2 linked regions of the Homo sapiens genome follow. The protein of the gene in region 1 interacts with the protein of each later gene in a pairwise test. Each region holds a gene or a part of one and is shown on either strand. Other genes may lie near its edges. The genes, in order: FAM118A and ZNF451.

The links.
Region 2: the proteins of FAM118A (region 1) and ZNF451 interact in a two-hybrid assay, tested with the Homo sapiens proteins (one large-scale study listed by BioGRID and IntAct).

The regions. Positions count from the first base shown.
Region 1 is NC_000022.11:45,312,683-45,316,501, reverse strand, and holds part of FAM118A (protein FAM118A), read right to left. Parts: intron 1-3,819.
Region 2 is NC_000006.12:57,152,580-57,156,398, reverse strand, and holds part of ZNF451 (E3 SUMO-protein ligase ZNF451), read right to left. Parts: intron 2,539-3,819; coding exon 2,352-2,538; intron 1-2,351. UniProt on the Homo sapiens protein: E3 SUMO-protein ligase; has a preference for SUMO2 and SUMO3 and facilitates UBE2I/UBC9-mediated sumoylation of target proteins. Plays a role in protein SUMO2 modification in response to stress caused by DNA damage and by proteasome inhibitors (in vitro).

The sequences.
Region 1 (3,819 bases):
GACTGCATGCTATGGAAGCTCAACGGCCAGACCCTGCTCATTAATATCCTCCTCTCCCTTCATTCTAGATGTGATTCCCACAAACTTCCTTTTTCACAGCCATCAGGTTCCCACGTAGGCTTGGGAGAGGAGAAGAGTGTGGCGGCAGAAATCACTGAGCAAGGCTGGATGTGGAGGCTCACACCTGTAATCCCAGCACTTTGGGAGGCCGAGGCGGCCGGATCACCTAAAGTAAGGAGGTCGAGACCAGCCTGGCCAACATGGTGAAACCGTGTCTCTAATAAAAATACAAAAATAAGCCAGGTATGGTGGTGCGCACCTGTAATCCCAGCTACTCTGGAGGCTAAGACAGGAGAATCGCTTGAACCCGGGAGGCAGAGGTTGCAGTGAGCCGAGATCGTGCCACTGCACTCCACACTGAGTGACAGAGCAAGACTCCATCTCAAAAATCAAATCAAATCACTGAGCAACAGTCTTCAAGCACATGTGACAGTCATATTTCTAACCACAAATGAACCATCTGCGATCCAGCTGATAGGTTTCTGGTGAGTTTGATTAGCATGACTAGGGTCACCTGAACTGGAAACAAGGCACAAATGGGCAAAAAATTAAGCTTCTGGAACTGCAAAGGAGAGGCTTAGCCTTGAAACCACAACACCCCCACCTGAAGCAGCATTAGGACTAAGGTGCAGAAAACACAGGATCTGGAGACAAGGAAACACCACCCTTTCCCCAGCCAGGTAGACCTCTCTAAACCTGTTTCCCCCAGCCAGGTAGACCTCTCTAAACCTGTTTCCCCCAGCCAGGTAGACCTCTCTAAACCTATTTCCCCCAGCCAGGTAGACCTCTCTAAACCTGTTTCCCCCAGCCAGGTAGACCTCTCTAAACCTGTTTCTCCATCTCCCAAATGGGGATCCCAACATGCACATCACCGACGGGGCTGCTGCAGACATTCAAGGGAGACGCGTATCTGAAAGGCACTTAATAAAGTGTACAGTGTCTGTTACTCTCAACCGCCTCACGCTAGCACCACTCTTCCAAGGCAGTCACCACAACTACATTTCAGTGTAATCATGGTTCTGGTAAAACTTAATCTCAGCCATTACTAATAATAAGGGATCTTCAGGATGAGTTATTTTCTTCAATTTACAGAAAATATGAACCCTTAATTTGAACGCACTCCACTTAACCAATTACTTTTTATTCTGTTGAACTTAATTATAATGGGAAAAATGCCTTATTTTGTAATGATGGAAATAAGTTAATTGGATTCCTGAAACCAGTCCCACCAAACAGAGCTGCTTGGACGTATACACCCAAACCAGGAAAACAGCAAAACCCACCACTAGAAAAAGAATCTAATTCAAATTTAGTTTAATTTGGTCACAAATTAATTCAAAGAGCAACATTAATTACTGCCACTTTTTCAGCCTTTAATAGAGATTCAAGGGAAAATGCTAAGCGTTTTACACGCACTATCTCAGTTAACCTCAATAACCCGATGAGGTGGCGACTCCTATGACCCACAGCCTGGCCAAGGCCGATAGTGAACCCTTCTAACAGGCCAGCCCCAAGTTGTGTATTATATATTCTTGCGCCTTTCTTCCTAACATCAGTGCAGCTTGAAATGGCAAACAAATATACCTGATATTTTACTGGGAACTCTGCCATCCACTAAAGCATTCAGCATTTTACATACAGTTTGTCCACCAGATGTGACACATTAACTCAAATAAACGTGTTACTTAACAAGCCAATGTTAAAACACGCCAAGACAGAGGCCAGGGGCTTGTGGACCCACCTGCCTTTACCCCACCTCAAGAGGATACGTAAGACATGTTCTAGAAGGTAAACCTCCAACAAAATGTAAAATGACAGAATTTCAGAGCGGGCAGGATCTTAAAGGTTACATGAAACCAAATGCCCTAATTTTTCAGAAGTGAAAATTGAGACTAAGAGACAGTGACTTTGTCAACTTCCCCCACGGGGCTGGGAACAAGCTATAAAGTAACTCCTGGCTCATGTCCCATACCCTTCCCACCGGCCTGGGCATTGTCTGGTCCACTGTGACCCCAACACTTTAAGGCACTCATTTCTACCTCTTTACCACCAAATCATTACAAATAAGGCACAGTTTAGTTTTCTACAGTTTCTCCTTCCCCGGAAATGTTGAAAGAGTTGCCATTAGGCAGATAGAAGAGGCGGCAGGCAGAGCAGCTCCAGGAAAAAGACCAGCCCCTGCACAGTGTGCTTATCATTCAACTGTCCATGTTAGCTTGGGGGGCGGGGTGGGAACAGATAAGGAGGGCCACATGGAGGAACAATGCTACCAACTCAAGAGGACGGCATTTTCCTGACAAGGAGATGCTGCAGGCTCCTTGGGGGAAGGAGGTAGGATACAGCAGCAACAGCCTGGCCAACAAATCAGTACTGGCTGAACTCCTTACTACCTGGGCAAGGACTCATTCCTGAGCCTATTTACTTTTTCTACAAAGGAAAGAATATCTTATACCTCCTAAGGTTGCTGGAAGCATTAAATGGAATAAAAGAACAAAGCCTGGAACAGTGTGCTTCCTACTACACCCTAGATGTGTGATAGGGAATCCTTCCTAGATTTAATTAAAATTAAAGCTAAATAAAATTAAACAGCTGCGTCACATTAGTCATATTTTCAGTGTTCGGCGGCCACAAGCGGCCAGTGTGTACTGGACAACAGTCATTACATTTTGGTTACCACAGGAAGTTCCATTGTGCAGTTATCCCTGAGTCTGTCTCTCCCTCACCTAAGCCCAGACTTCAACAAACAAGTCCTGTAGATTTTTCTTCCTAAATCTGTTTAATCCATACCGTCTGCCACAGTCTTAAAGCCCTCACAACTTGGCTGGGAGTGGTGGCTCACACCTGTAATCCCAGCACTTTGGGAGGCCGAGGCGAATGGATCACCTGAGGTTGGGAGTTTAAGACCAGCCTGGCCAACATAGTGAAACCCCGTCTCTACTAAAAATACAAAAAGTAGCTGGGCAAGGTGGCAGGCGCCTGTAATCCCAGCTACTTGGGAGGCTGAGGCAGGAGAATCGCTTGAATCTGGGAGGCAGAGGTTGCAGTGAGCCGAGATCGCACCATTGCACTCCAGCCCTGGCAACAAGAGCAAAACTCCATCTCAAAAAAAAAAAAAAAAAAAACCCTCACGACATGTCTGACACTGAAAGGCACCTGCTTCCAGTTCCAGCCCCTCTAGTCCTCTAGTCCCACATAGTCACCAGAGGGAAATTTCTGACACATCTGAACTTGTCTCCCCTCCAACAGCTTTGCATTTTGTTGAAATCTCTACTTGGTCTTCATCCTGTTTCCCGTCTTACTACTCCTAGAATCCCTGGAATCTCCAAAGTGCTGTCATTTTGTATGCTAATGAGCTGATTGACGCAGATAGGCCCTGGGCAGCTTCAGAAGGGGGCTTATCACCAGAAAGACCAAGGCAGGATTAGATCCTTGGAACTTTCAGCCCCACCCACTAACCTGGGGAAGAGAGGGCTAAAGATTACGTTGATCACCAAAGGCCAATGGTTTAATTAAGCATGCCTACATGCTTAAGTCGTCTCCATAAAAGGCATAAAAGGGCTGGGTTCTGAGAGCTTCCTGAGAGATAAATACAAACATGCCGAAGTTTCTGGAGAATGGTACACCCCGGGGAGGGCACAGAAGCTCTGCACAGCATCCCCCACGCCTCACCCTACGCATCTTCTCATCTGTGTCCTTTGCGATATCTTTCATAACAAACCAGTAAACCTGAGTGTTTCCCTGAGTTCTGTGAGCTGTTCC
Region 2 (3,819 bases), on another chromosome or scaffold:
AATACCATTCCTTAATAGAAACTATTACTCAACTATTCACAAAGCTATTTGTTAGGAAAGGAAATGGAATAAAAGTTATCCAAGAAAATGATTTTTCTTTGATTCCTTATAAAGTTCACTACAGGAAATTTGATGGTTTTAAGTCTTCCATGAAGAAAAAATTTGGTCTTAAATCAGATAACTAAGCCTGAACATACTATGATTCAGTGTAACATTAAAAATGTAGTGGCTAGGAATCACATTTTCTTTTTATGGTAGTAATAATAAAAAATAGCTATTATTTGTTAAATAGCTAAAGTGCTTTATATACTGTGCTAGACACTTTACATACATCACTAACTATTACAACCATATAAATACAAAAAAATGAGGCTCCAAAAAAGTTAAGTAACATGCCTGAAATCGCGCTGCTAGGAAACAGCAAAGTTAGCATTTGAACCAAAGCCCATATCCTTCTTCATGCAGTGCACAATCTCTGTATGTCACAAAAACTAAGAATAAAGTACACATGTGCCTCCAGAGAGTAGTTAGTTCAAATGAGTACTGAGTATGAGTGATTAAAAAAAAAAAAAAAAAAAAAGAATACCTAGAACATAAGAGTCATTTGGAAGGGCATAATCAGCAGATATTAATAACCTGTATCTTACCTCCAACTGTAATATACCCATGCAAGTCTACTCGTATTCACCTCTCATTCCAAACAGAATATGGTTTTGCCTCTGCAAAACCATAACAGGTTTCACATTTGGAGTTATAAAAGAAATGTTCCCAAAAGCAGAAGCATAAGAGAAGGAAAGGGAGGTTGGCCTTGTGCGGCAAAGGTAAAACTTTATCTTATAGGATATTAAGTAGATGTTGAGAACTGGGAAAGCGATGGCAAAAGAGTAGAAGAGGTGTTTTGCTTTTTGTTTGAGACGAAGTTTTTGGTCTTATTGCCCAGGCTGGAGCGCAATGGTGCAATCTCAGCTCACTGCAACCTCCGCCTCCTGGGTTCAAGCGATTCTCCTGCCTCAGCCTCCCGAGTAGCTGGGATTACAGGCAACCGCCACCATGCCCAGCTAATTTTTGTATATTTAGTAGAGATGGGTTTTCACCATGTTGACCAGGCTGGTCTTGAACTTCTGACCTCAGGTGATCCACCCACCTCAGCCTCCCAAAGTGCTGGGATTACAGGTGTGAGCCACTGCACCCAGCCTGTTTTTTTTGTTTTTTTGTTTTTTGTTTTAAGAAAAAAGAAAGCCACAGATAGAAAAACAAGTGAAAACAAAAATTACAGAATAGGAAGATAATACTCAGAACTAAGGCATGACATAAAGACACAAGAGTTCATTTTCTTTTATAATCTTCCATCATTACTCCACTTTAAAGAGTATAAAGAGCACAGATTACTGATTCCTAACTTTGCAGAAGTGAATTGATCCACTGTAATCAGTGATTACAGCAAAATTCTCCAGAATGAGTTTTCAATCAAAATGTGCTTCCAAATATATTGAAAGAAAAAAAAAATCTAGGAGGCAAGCAGACTTGAAAGCTTTAAAGGCACACAATAAAAATGCCAAAAAGCCACTATTTTTCATTAAGGTAATTCATTAATATCTTCAAACCTTATTCATGAATTTAAATTATTAGGATATTTAAACATTAATTATTCTATCCATATTTCTTTACTTCAGAGATTATGAAAAAGGGGGTTATAACTCAGTGGTAGAGCATTTGACTGCAGAAATTATGAAAAACGAAAAACAAAACTTCTGAATCCTTAGAATTACATCTTTTCTTATATACTAGGAAGTGAAATTGGGTATCAGCACTCCTTTCATTGAACAATCTCACAAAGGTACAGAAGAAAGTGCAAGTCCCAGCAATAAGATAGGATGTACCCACTTCTCTAAGGACCTAAAAGCCTATCAGCGTTTTATTTTGTCACTGTCAACCTCTTAAATGATCACCTTTGTTATTGCTTTCTGGTTTTCACCTCTAAGCGCACTGCTTTCTAAAAAACTGAAGGTCAACTTGGAATTTCAGAAACAAAGTGAAGATCTGAATTCTGAGCTTTTAAAATTGTAGTAACATACTGTAACACATGAATATATGTTTTATATACATCAATATAGATTTTATCTACTAGATCAAAAAAAGCTCCAGAAAATTATTATGAATTCATCCTCCTTCTAAAACACTAAAGAATGAAAGTGAGATTTTTTTAAAAAAGATAAGTAAGATAGAAGTAAGAGAACATGATGGTTTAGCAAGCAGGCAACAGTTCACTAGCGGACAGCAGTTTATTGGTTTCTCTCAGCAGTGAAGTCTCCTCCTCTTGGGTGGTTTGCACTGTGACTGCAGCTGCGTACCTTTGGTGGTATCAGATATGCTATTTAACAAGGCACACATCATATCTCCCTCTAAGTGGTGAGGGTTTAGTATATGAGCTGGCCTCTGAGTCTTCTTAAATTGATTCTCTAGCTCCAGAAAACCTTGATCTCCTGAGAGGATGGTGAAAGGAATTTGCTTGGGTAGTTGTTCATCTAGACGGCCAGCCTAAGTTAGAACAAATGGCACAGGTTGATAAAAAATCAGCATGAGTTTCAAAACAAGTTACATCTATTTCAGAATGAACACATGCCTAGGAAGGTATATTAAGCTTGTTCCCTAGTCCCTACCAAAGTATGACATAAAGATCTCCTTCAGCTGGGTGCAGTGGCTCACGCCTGTAATCCCAACACTTTGGGAGGCTAAAGCAGGTGGATCGCTTGAGGTCAGGAGTTCGAGACCAGCCCGGCCAACATGGTGAAACGCGGTCTCTATTAAAAAATGCAAAAATTAGCTGGGTGTGGTGGCATGCGCTTGTAATCCCAACTACTCGGGATTCTCCAGGCTGAGGCTGGAGAATCACTTGAACTCGGGAGGCAGAAGTTGCAGCCAAGATCGCGCCACTGCACTCCAGCCTGGGCGACAGAGTGACACTCCGTCTCAAAAAGGAAAAAAAAAAAAAGAGAGAAAGAAAGAACTCGTTCATAAATGAAATACCCCACATTTAATCAAATATAAGATGCCATTAAATTATATAAGCTATTTAATGTGCCATGAAAAGAAAAAGCCAAAATGGAAGTCCAACAGACCTCACATAAGGTTGAAATGCCAAAGGGCTATACGCTCAATATAAGGGTAAATAAGAAATAAATCTGCCATAGAGAAAAGGTAAGCAAGGCAATTTGCATGATTCAATCTTGGCATTAGATAGACTGAAAAAGAAATCTTTTGTTGTTTAAACCATAAGCTGCAGTCAACAAGTTTGCAGAGTAAATTCACATTATCAGTGTGACATGTAAGTCCCCAAGCAGAAAATTTAAAGTGGGTCTCAGTTTGGCAGTTTCTCTAGGTACCCAGCAGAGACAGAAGCAAATGCAAATTCTGTCTAGGCCAACAGTGATTGTTAAGGTACCTCTTAATTTTAGAGATATTAAAATATGAAAGTGTCTTAATATATATCAAATACAGTATCATCAGCAGGGCGCAGTGGCTCACACCTGTAATCCCAGCACTTTGGGAGGCCTAGGCGGGCAGATCACTTGAGGCCAGGAGTTTGAGACCAGCCTGGCTAACATGGAGAAACCCCGTCTCTACTAAAAATACAAGTATTAGCTGGGCATGGTGGTATGCTCCTGTAGTCCCAGCTACTTGGGAGGCTGAGGCACAAGAACCATTTCAGCCCAGGGGGCTGAGGTTGCAGTGAGCCGAGACTGCGCCACTGCACTCCAGCCTGGGTGACAGAGCGAGACTGTCTCAAAAACAAACCCAAAAAACAGTATCAGCTCTTGA